Regions from separate parts of the Homo sapiens genome. Here all the other regions are linked to region 1. The links come from fine-mapping of genetic effects on gene expression. A gene starts in region 1. Each other region holds a variant in brackets. All regions are shown on one strand. Distances are between the middles of the regions. Region 1 holds the start of SGPL1 (sphingosine-1-phosphate lyase 1). Region 2 has its middle 19 kb from the start of PCBD1. Region 3 overlaps SGPL1 (sphingosine-1-phosphate lyase 1).

What was found. PIP is the estimated chance that this variant, and not a neighbour inherited with it, causes the effect.
Region 2: its variant is the best candidate, but not a certain one, in a credible set for the expression of SGPL1 in whole blood (INTERVAL, PIP 0.76).
Region 3: its variant is the best candidate, but not a certain one, in a credible set for the expression of SGPL1 in whole blood (TOPMed, PIP 0.54).

The regions. Positions count from the first base shown.
Region 1 is chr10:70,812,500-70,820,681 of GRCh38, reverse strand. SGPL1 (sphingosine-1-phosphate lyase 1) reads right to left here and starts at 4,734. Exons shown (of 15, transcript NM_003901.4): 1 at 4,556-4,734; 2 at 3,802-3,871. The coding sequence starts at 3,828. RefSeq lists silencers at 4,319-4,428, 4,509-4,598, 4,619-4,938.
Region 2 is chr10:70,903,178-70,911,359 of GRCh38, reverse strand. No RefSeq gene overlaps it. Among named protein-coding and RNA genes, the nearest start is that of PCBD1, 19 kb to the right of the region's middle. RefSeq lists an enhancer at 7,198-7,746. The variant C/T (reference allele first, on the strand shown) is at 4,592.
Region 3 is chr10:70,847,757-70,855,938 of GRCh38, reverse strand. SGPL1 (sphingosine-1-phosphate lyase 1) reads right to left here. Exons shown (of 15, transcript NM_003901.4): 4 at 4,729-4,796; 5 at 1,084-1,231. Among named protein-coding and RNA genes, the nearest start is that of SGPL1, 36 kb to the right of the region's middle. The variant A/G (reference allele first, on the strand shown) is at 3,566.

The DNA of each region.
Region 1 (8,182 bases):
TGCCTCAGCCTCCTAAATAGCCGGGAATACAAGTGTACGCCACCATGCCCAGCTAATTTTTGTATTTTTAGTAGAGACAGAGTTTCGCCATGTTGACCAGGCTGGTCTAGAACACCTGGCCTCAAGTACTCTGCCCGCCTGAGCCTCCCAAAGTGCTGGAATTACAGGCATGAGCCACCACGCCTGACCCAATAAACAAGATTTAATAATAATTTAATAATAAAACATGTATTTTCAGACTACACTAGAAGAAAAAAGACTCCCTCCTCCCCCAGTCCCCCATTGCCAAAGTGCCCCCTAGAGGGTGGAGCTATCCTATCCCATCTGCTCCACACAGACCCTCTCCCATCAGTCACAATGGTCAGCAACCTCTACCCTTACCAGGGGTAAGGACACAAAGTAGGCAAGAGGGAGGGATCTGAAGTCAGACCAACTGAGGTCAAACTTGGCTCCACCACTCAACTGCTGTAGTTACTCTCTATAAGCCTCGTTTTTCATCTGTAAAAGAAGGATACCAAAAGGTTTTTGTGAAAATTAAATAAGTACAGTATTCCTACACTTAACATGTAATACATGCTCAATAAATGTTAGCTATCAGAGTTAACATTACTATTCCTGAATCCACCTTGTATTGTTTCCTAGCTTTTGCTCACTTATTCCATTAGCAGAAAAGACGGGAGACTGGATATCCATTTACCAGAGATACTCTTCAACAGATTCATGTATAATATAAGCTGCATCACAGGCCAGGTACAGTGGCTCATGCCTGTAATCCAGCACTTTGGGAGGCCAAGGCAGGCGGTTGGATCCCTTGAGCCCAGGAGTTAGATACCAGCCTGGGTAACATGGCAAACTACCATCTCTACAAAAAATAAATACAAAAATCAGCCGGGCATGGTGGCATGTGCCTGTCGTCCCAGCTACTCAGGAGGCTGAGGTGGAAGGATCATCTGAGCCTCAGAGATTGAGGATGCAGTAAGCTGAGATCATGCCACTGCACTCCAGCCTGGGCATCAGAGTGAGACCTTGTCTCAAAAAAAAAAAAAAAAAAAAAGCTGCATCCCATGACTTCTAAGACTATTTCTAATTCTGAGATGCTGCACTGCACTGAGGTTATTTTTTTATTCACTTAGGTCCTTTCTTCCCAGGTGGAGGGCCAAGAACATGTTTTACATATCATATAAAGTAGCTTGAGAAACACCTCATAGAATGATGGGTTAGTGTGCCACTGAAAACCCAGCCATGGTTATTGGTTCTTTACCAGTTAGTTCCAAATAGCATTATACATTACAGTCAAGGAATGAATGACAACTTTTCCAGTGAAAGCACTTCATGCAACATGTATGTTGTCTTCAGAAAGTGATGACTGCCTAGGGCCACTCGCATCTATGTGGATTAATTCCTTACAGCAACAAGCAAAGCAACACTCCTAAACATTCTAAATTAACAGGTGAGGAGGTGAAAGGTGGTGGCAACAGCTAGAGAAATACCTCAAAAGAAAACTGATTCCAAAGTTAATATTCCGAGTAAAAGCAGTCATTGTTCTGTTAAAGTAAATGCATAGGCCCTATAAGTAATAACCATATCTCTGTGCATGGGGAAATATCTTACATATAAGAACCTATAATTTACATAAACATATCCTTCTGTAAGAGGATAAACAGAAACTGTCAATTGCTACAAGTCACTCTGCATTAACCATCCAAGATGCTCACAGCGGTTATTTCTGGGTGATAAATTACTGCACGGGGTAGAGGCGAATGAAGGGGATGTAGGAGATAGGGGAGATTAACAAATCCCCTTTCCTTTTGCTTACTTATAGTTTCCAGTATTTCTAACATAATGGTCTTTGAATAAGAATTTTAAGTTATATAAGGGTATTAATTAAAACTGAAAAATCCATGAAATTTGGGGCAAGATACTATTTTAGATGAACTTTTCATTGGGATCTGCGGATAACCTAAGTATTCATCTATGTCTCTCACATACAACCTAAAATTATCCTAGATCCCTGCCTCAAATCACAATGGATCAAAACTTAGTTTCTCTCTTCTTTAGCCCCCCTGCAGACCTTACAGGTTATGCCACTACGATGTCAGCACCCAGTATAAGGAAATCTCACTACCAGTTTTTGCCAGTTTCCCAGTGACGCCAACCCACCCTCTGGGATAGTGAGATAAAGAGAGAGAAATGAATTGTTTTTAAAGCACTGATTTTGCACTCAGAGAAGTGACAAAAACAAACAAACAAACAAACTTGGCTGGACACGGCGGCTCACGCCTGTAAGTAATCCCAGCACTTTGGGAGACCAAGGCAGGTGGATCACCTGAGGTTAGGAGTTTGAGACCAGCCTGGCTAACACGGCGAAACCCCATCTCTATTAAAAAACAAAAATTACCCAGGCATGGTGGTGTGCACCTATAATCCCAGCTACCCGGGAGGCTGAGGCAGGAGAATCGCTTGAACCCGGGAGGCAAAGGTTGCAATGAGCTGAGATTGTGCCATTGCACTCCAGCCTGGGAGACAAGAGCTAAACTCCATCTCAAAAACAAACAAACAAAACAAAACAAAACGAAACAAAAAAAACTAAACCCGGACACTTTTTCTATACCACCATTTCAAAGCTATAAACTCTCCATAATTCTCACACTAAGAAGTCCATAAGGAATCATAAAAGTCCCAAAAATAAAATGTCATTTTGGTAAACATGCATTTAGCAACGCTATTCTTCCCTGCTCAGTAAAACAGCACAGAAAGATCTCAGGAGGAGAGGAAACAGCTCTAAAGCAGGCATACCTCTCTGTCCAACAAAAGAACTTAAATTCATACTGGTTCAATCCAACAAGCATTTGTTAAGCACATACTATATTCAGAGCACCATGCTAGGTGTTTATTCATCTCTAAACAAAGAAGACATGATTATCTGCCTGTCGAGGAACCATAACTCTAATCTGGAAGACAAACACTCAGATAAACTAGTATATGGCAGACCCTGATAAAACGTAATAATAGAGGTTTCAAAACTGCTCTGGTAGTACGGGAAGGGAGGGATTAAAACTGCAAGAATTATGAAAAAGAAAGCCAGGAGAGGTGACCTGTGCTCCTAGTCCTAGCTACTCCAGAGGCTGAAGCAAGAGGATCACTTGAAGTGGGAGTTCCAGGCTACAGTGAGCTATGATTATGCCTGTAAATAGCCACTGCACTCCGGTCTGAGGAACATAGCAAGACCTTGTCTCATTTAAAAAAAATAATAATAATTTTGAAAAAGATTCTTCAATAATTTAAGTTCTACATATACTGTATTGATGTATTTAATTCAGCTATTTATTCATCCTGATCATTCATCCAAAATAAAAGGTGGTTGGCCAGGCGCGGTGGCTCACGCCTGGAATCCCAGCACTTCGGGAGGCCAAGGCGGGTGGATCACCACAGGTCAGGAGTTCAAGGCCAGCCTGGCCAACATGGAGAACCCCGTCTCTACTAAAAATACAAAAATTAGCCGGGCGTGGTGGCGTGCGCCTGTAATCCCAGCTACTCAGGAGGCTGAGGCAGGAGAATCGCTTGAACCCAGGAGGCAGAGGTGGCGGTGAGCCGAGATCATGCCACTGCACCCCAGTCTGGGCAACAGAGTGAGACTCCGTCTCCAAAAAAACAAAACAAAACAAAACAAAATAAAAGGTGGCAAAACGCTCAGCTACCAAAAGCAAGCATCAGAGGTGAAATCTACACACTGGGATCCTTTGGACTAAAAAAACGGAGACAAATGCCTTGGAACCAGGAGGATGTCTGCAAAAGGCTCACCAACATCAGAAGGTCTGTGCTAGGCATCTTCCTCTTCCAGCCTCCTCTCCGCGCTCCCCTTTTTCAGACTCTGTAAAAGGGAACCAGGTTTGTTTACTTCTAGAGCTTTAAACTGTCTCGCCAGCCCGCCTAGATTCGCCAGAGCAGCCAAGTTATGGTTCTCTCCCTCCTTTGAAGGCTCAGATTTCATTCCCAGATATCACAGTCCACCCCTAGCACCCCAGACCAGCGAATCAAAATCCTGCTGCAACTAGGTTTCCCTCCCACAGCTGATGAAACTAATCCAGACCCAGACTCCCACAAAGCATTCCACCCAGGTGGAAACTAGGGGAAACGCCCCGTCTGCGCGCGATCGGGGTGGGGAGCCCAGCCCAGGCCACCTAACCCGGGCTGAAGGTGCCGAGGCTACCAGGGTCCTGCCTCCTCCGCACTCCCTTCAGAATCAGCACGGCCTCGCTCTCGTTGTCACCCCTCCCGTCGGAGGACCAGCAAATCCTGGCCGCCCATGCCTACCCCGCGGCAGGCGTGGGCTCCAGACCCGCCCCACCGCGGCCCCGCGCCCGCCCGCCGTCCACTTGCTTGGACCTCAGCGGCTGGTGCCCACGCCTTCAGCCCGCCCCCGCCCCCGCCCCGGCCGCAGCCGCCCCGCCGCCTCTGCCCGCCCTCGGCCCACCCGGCCCCTGTCCTCTCCTCACCCCGCGGCGCCTCCGTCCCGACCCTCACCGCCCCCCGGAGCCCGCGGCGGCCCCTCCACCTCCTCACGCCGGAACCAGCTTCCAGTCTCCTTCCCTCGAGCACCCGGCCGGCTCCACCTCCTGCGTCTCCCTCAGCACGCGACGGACTCGCAGGCCGCGAGACCCAGGCTCCCCTGTTGCCGCCGCCGCCGCCGAGATTGGAGGCCCGGCAGCCGCCGGCCTCGCCCCTCCCGGAAATGGCTCCGGGGGCACCGGCCCGGCTCCCGGACCCTGGCGTGCGCGGCCCCGCTGCTACCAGCCGCGCGCACGCCCAGACCCGGGCCCCACGGCCTGTGCGCGCCGCCTACCGGCCAGGCAGCGGGCTGCACCCAGACCCTCCAGTGAATGTCTCAACCAGGCCGTCCTGGGGCGGCTGTGGTATCCCGACGGTCACCAACTTCTCTTCCAAACTGCCTTGGACAAAAAACTTTCTTGTCACATTTGGTCACTTGGAGCCTCCTGAGAGAGTAGGTCTGCAGGGCATTGTACAAACTAATCCAAAACAGCCACAGAGTTGGGTCTCTTTCCTGGGCCAGGGACTTCATTTTTCCATCGAGGTCAGTGGTGCCTGAAGAAAAGCAACAAGGAAACTTATTTAATGGAAATATCATCCTCATCCTCCCCTCCACCACTGCCCCCCCCCACCCCAAAAATAAAATGGAGAGCAGAGGCTACTCTGCCATCACTACTTTCATGAGCAGTGCTGGGAATCACCTTATACACAAGTGCAAGGGCCCACTGGGATCACAAAGGTCGCCTTCATTTCCAGATGAAAAAACTAAGTCTCAGCTGGGTGTAGTGGCTTACATCGGTAATCCCGGCACTTGGGGATGCTGAGGCGGGAGGGTTGTCTGAGCCCAGGAGCTCTAGATCAGCCTGAGCAACATAGTGAGACCCCCAACTCCAAAAAGAAAAAGAAAAAACTAAGTCTCACATAGGTTTCCCATGACTTGTCCAGGTTGTCATAACATTGCTTTAGTGGTAGCAGAAGGCAGTGCAGTTACATGGAACCAACTGGTCAGTGACCTGCATTCAAGATTTTTTTTCAATAGATTTTAAAATGACACCTAGATAGACTCTTGAAATCTCTCAAACAAAAATGACACTAATGAGGGTACCCAATTCCATCCCCTTGGAAAATGTTGCCATGACACTAAAATTAGGGCATCATCACTACCGTCATTATCCACATGTAGTGCTTTCAGGATGAAATGTACTATCACAGCTGCCCTCCTCTGCATACCCCATCGGCACTTCCCACTTCCCCAGCCATAATGGTTAAGGCCCTGAAAGACTATGAACAGGTTATCTTTAGGCCTCCTCACCCCCATTCCGTCAGAACTCCCAGACATTTCTACCATCCAGAGCCCCTGACTCAGGCATGAACACCCCCATACCCTTAGCCCCCTCACTACTATTCCCCAGCAGACATGCATTCTCAGTGTTTGAGGGTCAGAAAATGTTCTGGGGCCTCCTGCCAATGCCTACTCATCAAGAGTTGCTTTAGGGTTTCAGGTATGCCTTCCCATTCTCCATCTCCTACCCTTCTGCTTTAATTCTTCATCAGATCCCCCAGGAACTGCACACCTCCTCTCCATCTCCTTGTTAGTTACCACCCCCACATCCTTTAATCTAGAATCTGTGCACCCAGATGACTAGAGGGCAGGGTCACGTCTGATTCCTCCCTACACCCTAACACACAGTATGCAGTCTGCTCATTCTTCCCAGATGCTCAAACCAATGCAATCATATCGACTGATCCTTGCTTTGCCAAGAACTATGCTAGGCACCTTTACATACAAGCCTTATTTATGGCCTGACTTGCCCAGATCAGGTGACTCTTATCATCCCTCAACCTGTAAACAAGGACACCAAGACCAAAGAAGGAAATGATCCTCCCAAAGACACACAGGCAGGATGGGGTGGAGTTTGTGTGGGAGTTTGGAGGGGAAGCCAAGGGTTCAGAATTTGTAGCGGGGACCTCGAATATCCTTTTTGGTTAATTAGAATCAAAAAATGGTAGGGCTAGAGGGGTCTCCAGCTATTCGCCAGCTCCACCCCAGAGAATACACAAATACACGTGAAGAAACTGAGGTCCAGAGAGAGATGCGACTCCTAGCAGTTCCTGGCAGAGCCCAGCCTAGAACATGGGTCTGGGTTTGCAACTCTCTGAGCCGATGAAGCCCTGTGTGTGTGTGTGTGTGTGTGTGTGTGTGTGTGTGTGTGTGTGTGAGAGAGAGAGAGAGAGAGAAAGAGAGAGAGAAAGACTTCAGACCACCCTGCTCTCCTACCCCACACTCCCTCTGACAGCAGAATGACGTTAGCAGGCACATAGCTGGCTGGTCAGAGGCAGAGGAGGGCTATCTGGAACTTCCATTCTGAAAGTGTGGTTTCCCTGAGAGCAGCATTGGCTTTACCTGAGAGCTTGTTATAAATACAGGTTCTTGGGGCCCCACTCCAGACCTCCTGAATCAGAATCTACAGCTTAACAAGGTCCCCAGATGATCTTAATGCACAAGAAAGTAAAAAGCACTTCCCTAGACACTCTGTTTGCAGAGAAAGCACAATTTTTGTTTGCTTATTTAGAAACATGGTCTCAATAATGTTGCCCAGGCTGGAGTGTAGTGGCTATTTACAGCCATTATCATAGCTCACTACAGCCTCAAACTCCTGGGCTCGAGCGATCCTCCTGTCTCAGCCTCCTGAGTAGCTGTGTCTACAGACACATGGCACTTTGCCCGGATAGAAGGCACGATAGTTGTATTAAGCGTGTGGGTTGTTTGGGATGGCTTAAGGAGGCTGATGAAGAACGTGTTTGTTTGGGGCTGGGGAGGGAACCAATGCTCCCCAGTTGTCCTTTGGTACCATCATGGTGCCTTCCAGGATGACAAAAGATTGTCATTCAGGTGTCAGTGAGGCACTGAAATTCCCGCAGATGACGGAAGGCTTGGGACGGGGGAGGGAGGTGTGGAGCAAGATGGTCTGGGATTTTTTCCCTCTGTGGCTTCTTTAATTTAGGCTAGGAGGATCTCCCTGCAGTGCTTGTGCCTGCCATCATTTAAACAATTCATGCCAGCAAATCTGGTTCTGCTTAAAATGGCAGCCATCCATGGCCAAGTTAATGACAGCCTCCCACTCATGCATGAGTGCACACTCCCACTCTAAAAAGCAGGCGCACACACTCTCCTGCCTCCATTCTTGCTCCTGACACCCCTTGCTCAGCCGGGGACCTTCTTGAGAAGCTCACCTCAGGACAGGGGTGTGGGCAGATCTTAGGAGGGTTGCAGCCTCTAGGCCCATCCTGGAAAGGAATGGCCCACAGGAAACCAACAAACAGTTCCTAGAGCCCAGAATGCCCAAGAAGAGGCAGGAAACCAGCACATAGCTCCAGCAGCAGGCTCAGCTGATCACAGCAGAGCTGGCCACCAGGGGAGGAGAGGCCAAGGGCCAGACAGACATGGGAGCCCCCACAGCAGGGACCAAATGCCCCGACATTGCCAACTGGAGTGAGCAAGGGGCAGCAAGTCACCGAGTTATCATGGGCCCCCTGACCTCACTCAGGTACATACCCCAGTTGCCAGTTTGATCAAAGTCAGAGTGGCCAAGCCCTCAGAGAGCCAAGAGTTATTTCCCAAGGAAACCTCATC
Region 2 (8,182 bases), 91 kb before region 1:
GGCATCCAGCTGTCACAGCTGCAAGGATGGGGGCAGAAAGGGAATTGGAAGAGCCTCAGCCAGCACCGCTCTAGGGATGCCTCAGCCAGGTGAGGCAGAGACCCAGGCAAAGACTCCCCCCGGAGGAGTCCCACATCTGCAAATGACCTCGCTGGCTCAGCCTCCAGCAGGGGCAGTCCGGGGAGAGGAAGTGTTGGGAGTGAGTACCACAGCGGCGCCTGCAGGTGCGGCAGCTGGGATGGTCAGTCACGTCCCTTGGGGTAGCTTCTCCTGAAGGGAGGCCTGAGAGGTGTCCTTCTGCGGCAGCCACTCTGACCTCTTGGGGCCAGAGTCCTTCCAGGTTGAACAGGTCTACCCCACATGCTGTGGGAGCACACCCAGGAATGTGAGCCTCCTCCAACACACTTAGCCCCGCTGAGGCAGCCCTGGCACAGCTCAGCAGCCTCATCTCCTCTCCAGGGACAGGCCCCAAGGCAGTGTTGCTGAAGGGCTGGGTGGCCTGGCCTTGAAGAGGACATGGGGTTCCCGGACCTGCCCCTAGCCTCAGGCACACCATCCTGCAGACCCCAGAAGGAGCCCCGAGACTCACCGCAGTGGACCGCAAGCAGTAGCCCACTCAGGGTCTCTGGTCAGCCCAGATCTCCCCAGCCTCAGCCTCCTGCGCCACATCTGCTGATGGCTCCCTCCTTAGGGAGTGGCACTGTCTGGATGTTGGGTCCCTCTAAATCTCACTGGAAATTTGATTCCCAGTGTGGGAAGTGGGGTCTGGTGGGAAGTGCTTGGATCATGGAGGCAGACCCCTCATGAATGGCTTAGTGCCATCCCCTTGGTGATGAGCGAGCTCTTGCTCAGTGAGTTCACCTGAGCCTGGTTGTTTAAGAGTCTGGGACCTCCCCTCTCTCTCGCTCCTGCTCTCACCCTATGATGCGCCTACTCCCCCTTTGCCTGCCATCATGACTGGAAGCTTCCTGAGGCCTCACCAGGAGCAGATGCCTGCACCATGCATCCTGTACAGCCTGCAGAACCGTGAGCCAATTAAACCTCTTTTCTTTATAAATTATCTAGTCTCAGGCATTTCTTTATAGAAAACAAAACGGCCTAACACAGGTAACACCCACCTGAGGTGAGGGGTAGCAGCAGGAGCACAGAGTCCCCCTGTCCCCACCCAGCTCTGGATGTTCTCCGCCCATAAGTCATCAAAGAGGGAGTGGGGGTGGAGGGATTGAGACTGTCTGGAGGTGGGTGGACAGAGGTGTTTAGCTGAACAACGGCCGCAGACATTCAGCTGTTCCTGACATAGCCCTCACCCATCAGCAAGAACATCTGCTGAGGTGGCTGGAGCCATCCCAGAATGGAAGGGATGGAAGGAGGCGAGAACCTGTGACTGAGGCCTTCAGTGTACACTGGGGGCATGTTGTCCTGGAAGCCAGCGGCCAACTCCACGTGTGCTCAGGACCCTTGGGTGGTTCCCAAGCTGCCGTCCATGCCTCATTTCACTTAACAACATTTGTTAAGTGCCTGGCCTGAGCCAGGGACTGATTGGAGCTCAGGGGATGTGACGGTGAAAGCCCAGATGTGGCCTCGGCCCTGCAGCAGATGCATTCTCAGCAAGGCCCACCTGCCTGTGCCATGGGCTCTCATGGAGGGTACCCAGCAGGGTGGGCCTGGCTGAGAAGCGATGGGGTAGTGGAGGGGGATGGGAGCCTAGAGGCTGGGACTGTGATCTCAGAAAGACATGGGGGTGCCCTGAGGTAGGTCATTTGAGAGAAACAGGCTAGTCTGAGAGGAGCTTTGGAGGCAGAGTTGGCAGGATGTGATGACCAAATGTTCAGGATGATGGGGTGACATGAGGACAATTCCCAAGTCTCCGGCTTCAGCAACGAGGAACCCTGGCTGTGCACTTAGTGACACTAAGCTACTTAACCCTGCTGTGTCTCAGGCTCCTCACCTCTAAGTCAGTAATACTACCTATTGCACAGGTTGGTTTTGAGGGTTAAATGTGTACGTGTAATGTGGGTGTAATGTGGGTTAAATGTGTATGTGTAAAGGGTTAAATGTGTATGTGTAAATTGATTAGAACAGTATCTAGCACCATGAAAGCCCTCAATAAACATAGGTTATTATTATCATCATTGTTGTCATGAGGAGAAGGAGGTGAAATGAATGGGTAAGTGAGTGTGTGGATGGATGGATGGATGGATGGATGGATGGATGGATGGAACATTACACTATGGTGGATGTAACGATGGAAGGAAGGAAGGAAGGAAGAAGGAAGGAAGGAAGAAGGAAGGAAGGAAGGAAGATGGATGGAAAGATGGGTGGAATGAAGGAAGCATTCATCGCCAATTAGAAAACCTTAGAAGACAAAGGACAGAGAATGAGTTTTGTTTGGGACATGTTGCATTTTGAGTGCCCCCACAAGGCATCCCATCAAAAGTGTCTAGGGGCAGCTGATAGCACAGGCCTGAAGTCCAGGAGCACGTTCTGGGCTGGGAACTTAGGACTATGACCAGCCATAGGACAGGGGAAGCCATAGAGTGGGGCAGGGCGGCGGGGCAGACGGTGGACTGGGAAGAGGGCAGACGGCATCCCAGCAGAACAGCCAGGACTCTTTCAGTGTCAAATAACAAACTCCAAATGGCTGAAGGGAAAAAAACCTCAGCTCATGGAACCGAAACATCAAAATCAGGGAACGCTGGGTCCAAGTGCTCAGTTGAGAGCTTGGGAGTCTCTCCTTCTCCTTCCGTCACTCAGCTCCGCTCTCCTCCCTGTTAGCCTCTTCCTCAGGCAGTCTCTCCCTGCAGTGGCCAAGACACCCAGGCAGCTCCAAGCTGACGTCTCACCACATAAGCAAGAGGAAAGACCCCTTTTCCTATCTGGCAGAAACCTAGGCTGGGCTCACCCTGGCCAGGCCTGGACACAGGACATCTCTGAAGCCAGGAGGTGGATCAGCCCCACCCAAACAATGGGGCGAGTGGGTGGGGAGGGAGTCCGAGGAAAATCTAGGTGTTGGCAGTCAAAGAAGGTGGAAGCATGCTGGGCAGGCACCCCCACAGCTGCCCACTTCACCAGCCAGCACCAGCGTTAATGGGGGAAGGGAGTGTCCCCCACAAACGCACGCCTGGCAGGGTGTGAACTCCAGGAAAAGGTCAGGTTTCCAGAAAAAGGGAGAGGTCACCTGTGTCAGCCACCACTAGCTGTCAGGAGGGATTGTGGCAAGAGCAAGTGCTCCGACCAACTGCTGCCACTGCTGCCACTGAAGAGAAGCCATGGGGACAGGGATGGGGCCTGCGAGGGTCCCCTGGGAGAGGCAGCAGAAACAGAAGCAGATGAGGGGCCTGGGCAGAAGAGTCCAGAGGCAGAGAGAGGAGGAGAGGAGCAGGCAAGGAGGCAGGCAGGACAGAAGGGCTGTGAGGAGCCTGGGGAGGTCAGATGGCGAGGAAGACCCCCAGAGGAGGACCCAGAAAGGACATGAGACCAGGGAGGAGGACAGAGGAAAAAAACACCAACCGACCTCCCTTCCTCCACCTCCCCCAAAGCCAAAAGTTAAAAATAGGCAGTGTGGCGAGCGGGAGACAGAATGAGGGCAGTTGTCTAAAGAGAGAAAAGGCAGCGGAGCCGGGGATGGGGGAAAGGCCCTGCAGGCCTCGGCGAGGATAAAAAATGACAGCGGCAAGGCACAGCCTCTCTCCCACCCAGACAGCCTCCCTGCCACCCATGGGTCGGCCTGCTGGGCTGAGGATCATCCCGCAGCTCAGCCTGGGCCCTGTGGAAGGGCTGCAGAATAATAACCCCACCCAAGGCCGCACATGGCTGGCTCCCTGCACCCAGGATCTGGGCACTCCCACCTGGCAGGGTGGGGACAGATGAGAAATAGAGGCTCAGAGAGTCCACGACATGCTACTGACTCCTGGGCACCGCCAAGAGGTTGTGGCCACAGAGACGACCCACCGTGGGATTCCCCAGGCTTGGGGTTAAAGTACAATGGGCACCTCCCTGTGCCGACACCAAGCTTCCAGCAGGACAGAGAAGAAAGGGGGAGTGGGCAAGTCAGAAGGTGATTTGAAGTCACACATCCCGTAATGCCTCCCCACCTTCCTGCACTGACAGCCCTGGTGGGGTAACTGAGGCCCAGAGAGGGAACGCTATCTGCCCAGGTGCTCAGGACAGCGAGCAGCAGAAGTGGGCACTGAGAACCAGGAGAACCTTTGGTTCCCAGCCGCACCCATCCTTACCTGGCTGGGTGTCCAGGCTAGACACCTCCTTCCTGGGGCTCCAGCTCTCATCATCCCCTGCCCTTCCTGCCTCCCTTCTGGGCACATCCACGGAAGAACTAATTCGTGGTTGGTTTGTAGAGGCAAAACCCCACATAAACATACACAGAGCGTTATGAGCTAAGAGGAAGCCCTGCTTGGAGCCGCCGTGTGCTGACATGGCTGCTCTCCATGCCCAGCTTCGGGGGGTCATTACTTTTGTCAGCAGACAGCATGATTATTGGATGGTGTTAATAATCTCTTATGTTTATAGATGGCCTTTCTTCTAAGGTTCTTAAAGCTCTTCCACATTTAACTTCCCCTTGTTGCCAGGAGGT[C/T]GATACCACAGCAGAGAGAAGCATTTATCTCCATGTTTTTATGAGGCCCAGAGAGGGTTGGCCATCTGCCCAGGGCTACACAGCAGATCAGCAACATAACTGGAATTAGTATTCTGGGGCCCAGGAAGGACCACCTTCTGGACATTCTCTCTGGCCATCTCAGGACAGGCCCACCCTTACACTTGTCCAGGGTTTTTATCCAGGTTTGACTCCATTTGATGAGGCAGGGCTGTTGGAATTATCACCACTGTGCAGGCTCAGAGAAGTGAAGTGACTTACCGAAGATCACACAGCAATGAGCAGATTGAGGACTCAAATCCAGGTCTCTGGACTCCCCATCCAGTGCTCTAACCAGGGCAGCAGCTACCCCCAACCACCCCAAAGCTGAGTTGGAGAGGCTCCAGAAGGAGCACTGAGGTGAGCCCAGTACCTAACAGGAGGAGGGAGACTTTGTCCTGTTACACCTGCCTGCAGGGAAATGGGGATGGGGCAGAGCCAAGGCCACTGTCCTCTGGGATCCCAGGCTGGGGCAGCCACGGTGGCCATCTCTCTCCCTTGGCCCACAGGTGGTTGGAAAGGAGGAGAGTAAGAAGAAACAGGATGGTCCCCATGGACAGGAAATCTCGGTGGGTTCATGGACACAGCAGACCCCTCCTCTCTCTGTGCTCCCACCCCTTCCACTGTCATGTGAGGATGGGGCTGGACACGGTGAGATCTAAAGTGCCCTCTGGCTCTGAGGTAGCTGAGATCTCCGAGAGTCAGGGTCTGCCAGCAGAGTCCAAACCACCAGAGCCCCTCTAGGCATCTTGGGCCAGGGAGCCCCGTCCAGCCCTCATTTGTCTCAGTGCTTACTGCGGAGTGAGGGGCCCAGGCGGGCAGGATGCAGGAAGAGGACAGCAGCAGACTCCAGCCCTGGCCCACCTCACCCCCAGCTGGCAGTGACCTTGGGCAAGTCCTTCACTCTCTGGCTGTCTGTCTCCTCCTCTAGAGAATAAGCGAATCTCCCTAGTGGGCCTTCTGGCCCCCGGGTGGCTATGATTCCCTGTGGCTCCCACAGGGGCAGCCCTTGCAGTTCGGGCTGGTTTGCGGTGTACAGGAATCTGATTCCGACATTGAGAAGCATTGATTGCTGGGCCTCTTCGGGGGCCACTGGGCCACAAAGAGAGACCAATTAGGCCGTGTCCATCTTCCTTCAAAGCCACAGGGGCCAGAGCTCCCACCCGGGGTGCCCAGGCCTTGGGAGGCTCAGGTGGGAAAGGCTGCTCCTCCCAGGCCCCAGTAAAGATGAACAGGCCTGCCGGGAGTGGAGGGGAGGTGGAAGGCGGGCAGGGCTGGAGACTAATGGAACTATTCAGGGGGCAGGAGCTGGAGAGGAAGACGTGCTTGATTCTCAAGAAAGATGAGGGAAGTGGCTGAGGCGGGGAGGGCGATCCCAAGGCTGCCTCTCGGAAACCTGCTCCCGGGCTCCACAGGGCTGCAGCCGAGGGTGGAGCTCCCCCACCTCAGCCCTCACGTCGAAGCAGGTGCCAAGTTCTGTGGGCACTGCCTCCGTACCAGCTCTGCACAGGTGTCTTCTCCCATTCTGTGGCCCCCAGGCTGCAGGAGGCCGTGCTTCGGAGCTGCGGGACCACCCAGCCTGTTTGAAGCCCAGTGCTGCAACTTTGCTCTGTTATTTCTGCTATGTCACTCTGAGCGATTTAGTCTCTCTGAGCCATAGTCTCTTTGTCTGTAAAAGGGGGAGATAATAGAATCGCCTTCGTGGGGCATTTGTGAGGATTAATTAAGACTGTGTGCAGAGTGTCTGGCACTTGGTAAGCTTTCCACACCTCCTCCCTCCACAGCTCAGGCTTAGCTAAGTCCACGTCCCCACTGCTTCTCCCCCAGACCCTCATCAAAGTTTCCTGCTGACGCCCTGCCTCACCCCTTCTCCCCCAGCTTCCTCCTCCACTCCCTGCCAGGGCAACCCTCCTGCAATGCCAATCTGAACCTGGCCATTCCTGGGCTTGAAATCTGTCAGTCCTGGTATGGCATGAAGTGAAAGAATGACATGCATAGGCTGGGCGCGGTGGCTCACGCCTGTAATCCCAGCACTTTGGGAGGCCGAGGCGGGAGGATCACGAGGTCAGGAGATCAAGACCATCCTGGCTAACGTGGTGAAACCCCGTCTGTACTAAAAATACAAAAAATTAGCCGGGGGTAGTAGCAGGTGCCTGTAGTCCCAGCTACTCGTGAGGCGTGAACCTGGGAGGTGGAGCTTGCAGTGAGCCGATATTGTGCCACTGCACTCCAGCCTGGGTGACAGAGAGAGACTCCATCTCAAAAAAAAAAAACAAGAAAAAACAATGGTGTGCACATTGTTCAGGTGTTATCATAGTAGTGCAAGCCTGTGTTTTTAAAGAGTCTCTCATTTTTAGAGATATACACTGAAATATTTAAATATAAAATGCTATGTGATTTGCTTCAGAATAATCTGAGGGTGGGAAGGAGTGGGCGGCCGAGACCAGCCTGGAAACTTCCTGGTGGAGCTGGCTGGTGCGTCTGTGGGGATCGTTATGCCAGTCTCCCTTCTTTGGTATGTTTAACAATTTCTATCTATAAAAGGTTTGTACAAATGTGGAGGGAGAATGGATGAGAAGCTGGTAGATCTCTGTTGGTGCCAGGTGCTGGGTACATGGGGGTCCATGAACTCTTCTCTGTACTTGGTGCCTATTTGATAGTTTTCATAAGAAATTTTTTTTTTGTTTTTTAAAAAGGAAATTCTGTCTGTTCTCCCTGCTGCACCAGAATGGAGTTCATGCATGTGGCTCCAGGGCCCCCCACGAGCCATGGCCAGTCACCCCAGCCCCTTGCACCCTGTGCTCTAGGATCCAGGACATAGCCAGCAACCAGACATGCCCGCGGTCACACCTCCATGCCGCTTGCTGTGCCCCCTCAGAGTGGCACACCTCACAACCCTGTCAGCCGAGAAGGCAACTTCTTCTCTTGCTTCAGCTTAAGAGTTGCCTCCTCTAGGGAGCTGGTCCTCATTTTCCTCCGGCCTCCCCCTAGGCAGAGCTGCCCACTGCCTCCTTGAAACCCCCACAATCCCTTCGGCCTGGGACACTGCGGACACAGGCTGCAAGGGGTGGGGCTCGTCTTAGTGCACCCAGGTCCCAGCACGGGGCCTGAAGCTCAGTACCTGTCCACTGAGGATTGAAAGGTCTCACCTAACTCAGGACTGAACCTTGACTGAGCCCCCCACAGAATGGGTCTCGTTTCCTGAGGTGGCCCTGCCCCCTTCTGGTGGACAGAAGTGTTGCAGGGAAGGCGGAAAGCAAGTTGGGCCAAGTCCAAGTCTACTTCCTTCATGGAGCAGAGCTGGGAACTGGGCTCCCCAGGGGAACCTACACAGAACCATGCAGAGCCTGTCGCCATGAGCCTCTCCAACCTCTTCAGTGCTCTCAGGTCTTCACTTAGAGGAGCACGCCACAACCTCGCAGACTGGCTGGCCTTTGCTCAGCCACCTTCTCTGCCCGGGTGCCCATCCGGGTCATCCCCCCCGCCCAATCTTGCCTCTGCCTGGCCAGCTCCTAATGAATCTTCAAGCTTACT
Region 3 (8,182 bases), 35 kb before region 1:
ATTAGTTTAAAACAAAACATAGCAAAACAAAAAAAAACCCTGATGAACTAGAAATAGAATTTGTAGTGTAGTTAATAGCACTGTACCAATGTTAATTTTTTAGTTTTGATAAACGTACCATGGTTATAGAGGATGTTAACATCAGGAGAAGCTGGGTATAGGGAAATCTCTATCATCTTTGCTACTTTTCTGTAAATATATCAAACTAAAAAGCTTCTTTTTAAAAAGTACTTGTAATATGATCTTAATCAGTAACAAACATAAATCTGTTTGAGTTAATAATAGCAATAATGTTTAACATTTACTGAATCCTTACTATATGCCAGGCACTATAAAACATTTATACATGTATGATCTCATTTAATCCCCATAATCATCTTTTCAGGTAAGTACTGTACTACTATTACTATCCCCATTGTAGAGATACAGGAACTGTGACATACAGAAGTAACTCGCCAAAGGCATACTTTAAGTGGCAAACCAAGGTATGAATCCAGGCTGGTTCCAGGGTTACGCTCTTAAGCACCAAGCTATTTGGTCTATTTATCCATCCCATATGTGCTCATGCATACATGTGTATACACACAGACAAACACTATTAGCATTCTCAGAAACAGACAGATATACATATATAGATAGATGTAAACTATATAGACAGCTCTACCTATAGCTACATGCATAAAGATAGACACCATCTGTTTATCTTTGATAGTGGAATTATAGTGACTTATTTTCTTTTGTGCCTTTATGCAGATTTCACATTTTTACATGGATCTGTATTTCATTTGTATTACATATCTTATATTCTCTCTTCTTAAACACAAATATATTTGTTTTATTCATGCTTACAAAAGGAAATAAAAGCCAAGTTCCACTGTCTCTGAGATTTGCTTGCTTTATGGATGAAGGATGAATCTAAACATAATTTTAAAAATAGGAAATTCAACCTGTGAAACAGAGAGTAGGCCCTCCTAAACATGTATTAACCAATGATGAGTTATTCTTAACCTATGTGAACATTAAACAATGACAAAACCTGTCTCTTTAAGGAAGTAGAGAGCATGTATATGCCAAGCATCATACCCATAGAGCTGTACTCCTTAAGTTTCTCCAAAACAGCAGATGAGCTCAGACCCTGGGAGGGTAAAGCTTTCACATACTCTTTGTCCACTTTCAGGAATGACATGTTCTTGCTAATATCATCCTTGGTCTTGTTCAACTTGTCTTGAATCTCCAAAGGTAAGAAAGACAAAGTTATCCAGATGCAAGAGTACAGTAGAGACAGCAGAATTATTATGACAGTCAAGCAACTGCTCAATGCTAGGCACCGCACAAGTAACTAAACTAACATTTTTCCTAAAGATATATGGTGATATTCTGACTGATCAGCTACTTTCTGGCATGTACAATAGCCTCTTAAAAATTTGAAAAGCGAAGCTTCTCTCTAAAGGTCAAGATGCACTCAGCCGGTCGCGGTGGCTTACACCTATTATCACAGCTCTTCAGGAAGCCGAGGTGGGCAGATCATTACAGGTCAGGAGTTCGAGACCAGCCTGGCCAACATGGTGAAACCCCATCTCTACTAAAAATACAAAAATTAGCCAGGCATGGTAGCAGGCATTTGTAATCCCAGCTACTTGGGAGGCTGAGGCATGAGAATCACTTGAACCCAGGAGGTGGAGGTTGCAGTGAGCCAAGATCACACCACTGTACTCCATTCAGCCTGGGCAACAGAGCAAGACTCTGTCTCAAAAAAAAAAAAAAAAAAGTTGCACCCAATTTCCCCATAACCCTTTTCTCTGCCACATTGACATCACTGCTGCTTCACTTGGTTGGCATTGCTAAAGTCAGCACATCCTTGAGGGCAGTATTTGGACTTTGATCCTGCCTTGGCAGCAGCTACAGTGTGTGTGTAAAAGAATCAAAGGTATAACTAGGAACAGTGGCCAGAAAACTGGCCATGCTGCAGTAAAAGTGATTCTGGTCCTTGTGCAAGTGATGAGCTCCTTCAACAGACATACACGCAGCACACTAGGAATTTGGAGGTCCCATTCAACACTAGCACAAGGCATTCTAAGAACTGCCAGGAAGACTCTAATGTATCTCCTTAAGCTGCTGTCGACAGCTTGCACTGTCTGACCCCAAAATATTAAAAGGAACTAAGGTCCTTTCTGCTAGGTAGTTTATCAACTATGGTTCCCTTCTTTTCCATCCTCAAAGCCACAGCTTCTGAGCTGTTTTCTTTTATTCACTTACATATTCACATTCATATTCACTGCATATTCACAAATATGCAGGCCAGGGACACATAGTGAACAAAACAAACTTAGGCAATGGAGCACACAGGAAAAAAAACCTCCTGTCCTCATGAAGTTTATTTTCAGCAGGAGAGACAGAAAATAGTAAGACAGGTAACAAAAAGTGCTGAGGGAAAAAAAATAGCAGAGTAAGGAGGCAGAAGGGCAGGGGCTGCTGCTTATAGCAAAAGGCTCTTGGGTAGTAGGTTTGGGGAGAGAAGCTACATGTCACGATTTGTCACAGTGCTATTGTTTCAGCAATATATTTGTTAAAGAACGCCAGAACTCACTCCACACTAAGATTTTCTCATCTCTAGCCAAGGATAATTAGAATACAAGAAGATCTTCTTAGATATGGCCCTCAGTGAAACCACAGGGAAAGCCACTCCTTTCGAGCATGTCTGCAATAGTCTAAGAGGCCCACACTGGCAGGGAGCAGAGGCTACACTCCTGGGCAATGCCTGGGCATGCTATGGATGTGAAGACATTTTTTAAGTTGTAAATTAAAAAATTAATTCACATAAATGGCGACTCATGCAACAGAACAGGCTATGAAAGCTGAGCTTCCATACATAGAGTATGCTATTGCCATAAAACAGACAAAAAGTGACAGAGAGGTATATTAGAAAGCACAAGTACTTCCTTACCCCCAATTCTTGCCTCAAAGCCTGTATTACGTTACCCAATTTTAATTTCTTCAAAGCATTTATTTCAAAATAAAATTCCACATATTTGTTTACTTCTTTATTTTCTGTCTTTCCTATTAAAATGTAAGTTCCATGAGAGGAAGGATTTGGTCTTGTTCACCACCATATCCCCAGCACCCAGAAAAGTACTTGACACTGAGCAGGTGGCTCAATAAGCATGTGTTAAGTGAATAAATGACAGAGGTATACACACACGCGTGCGCGCGCACACACACACACACACACACATACACACATGTAATTTTTTGTATCTAAGCCTCAGAATCTGTTTCTGAAAAATGGAGAGTGATTGGATAGTCCTTGGCAAGCTAAGGATCTTCCAATTCTGTTACTTTCTAAGTTTAAGAGTGGGTTCTGGAACCCTAGCATTTATTTGTCTCAAAGTCTGAAAACTGAACGAAAAGAAGAAAAAAAAATTCAGGAGATAAGGGGAAATCCTAATCTCCTTTGTGCTACAGTCCATCTTCTACAATACCTTCCCTGTCCCCACCCCTTATACTCTGTAAGGACTAGATTTACTTTTAGGGATTAATATAATTTGGAGAGCAAACAGAAGCCTAT[A/G]TGCTCACATTTCCCTTCACCACCTGTTATTGCTCCCACTCTCCTACAGGAAATGAACCTGAAGATACCTATCTCTGGGAGAGTTAGCACAGCGATCTGAATGGATTTCAGCCAAAGGTTAAAGATAACTGGCCAACTTTAGGTCAGGGGTTGGCAAACAAACCCTGGTATAGCCAGGAAAGGGAACTGAAAGCCAAAAGTAGAAGAAAACTTAAAGGCAGGTAAAGTTGGGAAAGACCAAAGGGGGGTCAGGGGAGGGCACTGGAGGAGATGAAGATTCCAAGGACTCATATGCCTTCCTTAGAGCTTGCCAAGTGGCCTGCCCTGTTTATCTTCATCTGGGATAACCTGTGGGAGACGCACAGAGGTGACTACCTTATCCTCAACATGGATGAGGGCCAAGAGGACATAACAAAGGGGACATACTACAATACAGAAAATTGCAAACAGCAAGAGACAGCGCTGTGCAACTTGGGATCAGCAAACTACAGCCAGGAACCAACAAAGGCCTACCTGAATTCGTAAAGAAAGTTTCACTGGAATATAGCCAGGCTCATTCCTGAACCTCTTGCTGCTGTCCCTCTGCAAGGGCAGAGGTGAGGAGTTGCAACAGAAATGATATGGCCTACAGAGCCCAAAATGTTTCATATCTAGCCCTTTATAGAAAACATTTGCCGACCCCTGACCTAAACCATGTAAGCACCCAACTCCTAGATAAATACCTAAAGTCAGCCAGCTGCATGTTGTTCCAAAGCACCTAACAATACAGTCAGGTTTTCTCAAATTCTTACTTCCTTAACAGGCTTCTCATCTCTCCTTTGGCCAGTTACATTGGAGAAAGGGTTAAGTCAGGGTTCTCAACCTTGGCCATTTTGACATTTCCAGCCAGATAATTCTGTGTTTGGTGGGTGGGGGGGGGCTGCCCTGTACACTGTAGGATGTTTAGTGTTTAGCAGCATTTCTGGACACGATCCATTACATGCCAAGAGCACCCCTCCATCCAAGCTGTGACCACCAAAAATGTCTCCAAATGCTGCCAAGTGTCCCCTGGAGGTAAGAGACAAAATCACCCCTCCACTTTGAGAATATTAGGTTTAGTAAATAGAAAGAAAGAGGTATGATTATCAAGAGGGGAAAAAATGACATACACAGATTCTACTTACCTTACGACCAATAATGGGCATCTTCCTGGTGAGCTTAAAACATTTCTTTTTAAACCTTGACCATAAACCTAAAAGAAACAAATGGTTCTCTTATTCAAATAAATTTCCATGGATATGACCTGGCATATAGCAACCATTCAATGTGTCTTCCACCTCACTTGCCTTCCAATTGCAAAGAGTTTCTTTCGTTTAAAAAATTTTAAAAAAACTTTTAAATTTAAGTTTGTGAATAAGTACTATATTTACATGGTTCAAAATTTTAAAAATACAAACACATAACACACACAGTAAAGCAGTGAAGCTTCCCTCTCTCAAACGTATCCCCCCAACCCTCATGCTACCCCCCTGAGTTTCCTTATGCATACACGTGCAACAGTAAAGCTATATTCTTATTTGTCTCCCTTTTTTTGCACAAAAAGTAGCACACTCTAGCACTGTAGTAGACCTTGTTTTTCCACTTAGGAGTATTATCTTAAAGATCAGTGCATCCTCATTCATTTTTATAGCTGCAGAGTATTCCATTTTATGGATGTGCCAAAATTTATTTAACCTGCCCCTTAATGATGGATATATAGGTTGCTTCTAATATTTGCTATTACAAATCATGCTGAAATAACCTTGTAACACACACCATACTGCACACCTACAGGATAAACTACAAGTACACCTACAGGATAAACTCCCAGAAGCAGAACTACTAGGTCAAATGATATACGTGTTCCAGAATTCTTGACCTTCCTAAGGTTTCTAGATGTTCAACATTTCTCTTCCTTCCCCCAAGACTAATGGGCAGCCTGTTTTTAGTTTTGTTTTTCTTGGATCTATGTCCAGCCTCTCATCCAACACAGATTCTAACATTTTCTGGACCTACAAATGCCCTCAAAATTGTGGATGCTGGCCAGGCACAGTGGCTCACACCTCTAATCCCAGCACTGTGGGAGGCCGAGGTGGGAGGACTGCTTGAGCACAGGAGGGTGAGACCAGCCTGGGCAACACAGTGAGACCCTGTCTCAACAAAAAGAAAAAAAAGTTTGAAAAATCACAGATGCCAGAGTCCACTCTGTCAGGCAGTACATAGAACAAATAGGGAATACAAATCCTGTCGATCATAATAATCATAAATACATGGCATCTAAATAGACTAATAGACCTTCTGATGCATTCACAATCAATGTATCTCGACTGACTCTGACAACAGCATTCTGAGGCTGGCACAGAAGGCATTATATACCATCTACGAGTGACATAAAAGGCAATGCAAGATCAAAGCATCAAAACTTGCTCAAGGCCACAGATAAAATCAGTGATAGAGCAAAGATTTAACTGAAGTCTTTGTATTTTCAGTCCAGGATTCCCAGGATTCTATACTGCTTCAAATGCACCACAGGAATTTTCTGTTTGAGTCTATAAGAATCTAAGCCTGGCTTTTATCCAAGGTGTGAACTGAATATGAACTTCTACTGCATTCCTAGGAGATCTGGAAATTCCCACTTTCCTGGCCAGAAGGAGCTCCCTCTTCACTCAACAACCACGGGATGTGTCTGCACCCCCTTTTTGTATCTATCACATCATGCCTTGCATCTCTGCTAGCTGTTTTTGCTTCAGCTGCATCCCTCTCTTTCTAACTCTCCCTAGAGTCCACATTCTGTAAACACCTGGGACAAAACCAGGTAACTAAGACACAGACTGAATAAGAAGACAAAGAGACTGAAACCACTTGTTTGTGGTTACTTTTTGTTTAAATTTTGGAGTATTTCCTTCTAGCCCTATGTTCTACACACTGTAATACATACCTGAGATTCTGTATAATGTAAAATAACTGTATCCTCCTCACTGATAGCACTTTCTACATTATTAACAATTCTTTCTAAACATATTTTTAATGTTATAATAGTTCATCAAATGACTATAATCTAATATTGGATATTTTAGCTTCTTGTTATTCAACTATTTCTAACTGTTAAAGCTGTACAGATTCAGAAATGCTTCCTTATTTGATGAAGTAATTAATGAGGTAAAAAGAAGTCTAAAAATCAGCAAACTGGACCAGCTGTCCAGAAGTATAGTAATGTGACTAGGTGGAGGATAAAAGAATAAACTAATTTTGTGGAAGTTGTGAGAAAAAATGGTACAGGGTAAAAAGAACGGAATACAGCATCAGAGATGAAGAAACTAAAAATAAAAAGATCCCATGGCCCTGACCTAAAAAGATTATCTCAAAAGTCCCCAGAAGGTACAGAATGAAAAGTAATTAGAATTTTTTAGTGGGATTGAGAGTAAGGGGAAGAAGGAAGACTGGGAGATGGTCAAAAGGATAGAAAATTCCAGTTAGACGGAAGCAATAAGTTCAAGAGATCATGGTGACATAGTAAATAAAAATGTGTTGCATACGTCAAGATTGCTAAGAAAGTAGATTTTAAGTGTTCTCACCATTAAAAAAGGTACATGAGGCCAGGTGTGGTGGTTCACGCCTGTTATCCCAGCACTTTGGGAGGCCAAGGCAGGCGGATCAGGAGATCAGAGTTCAAGACCAGCCTGACCAACATGGTGAAACCCTGTCTCTACTAAAAATACAAAAATTAGCTGGGCGTGATGGCACGCGCCTGTAATCCCAGCTACTCGGGAGGCTGAAGCAAGTGAATCGCTTGAACCCAGGAGGCGGAGGTTGCAGTGAGCCGAGATCGTGCCACTGCACTCCAGCCTGGGTGACAGAGCAAAACTCCATCTCAAAAAAAAAAAAAAAAAAAAAAAAAAAAGTACGTGAGGTAATCACGTTAGTTTGATTGAGCCATTCCACAACTTACACATTTGAAAACTTCATGTTGTACATCATAAACATACAATTTTTATTTGTTACTTTAAAAAAAGAATTTTAAGTTTAACAAAATAGAAAATGCCAGTGTAAGAACAATGCATGGTTCTTAACAGTTTACAAATTCCACTCATGCAAAAGATGCCATTCAGTCCTCATATTACCCATGACTAGGTAAAGCAGCTATTATGATGTCCATTTTATTGCAAGGAAATGGGCTAAGAGAGCTTAAGGGTGTCACCCAAGGTGACACAACAAGAAACTGAGAGTTTATCATTTCCTCCATGACATAAAGCTGATTTCTGTTGATGAATTATGGACAACCCACAGTTAAAATCAGCATTAAAGTAAAAGTAATAAACTGTGAGCTGATAATCACAGAGGCAGAATTAAGGAAGAGGCTGCTAACCCCAGCACAGTTCATGCCGCTGCCCACTTCTCCTCTACCCCAGGCTCCATCCTTTGTTCCAGAAATACTCTCTTCCCTCAAGAGGGATTCAGTGTTGGAAGATCAGCAAAATTCATCACTAGTCCAGACTTCAGACTCCTTTAGTGCAGTGTAACTAAAAATAACTTGATTGTTCAGCAACACATGGCAAGTGAGCAAGTGCTAAAAAAAATGAATATTCTATCAAAATTATC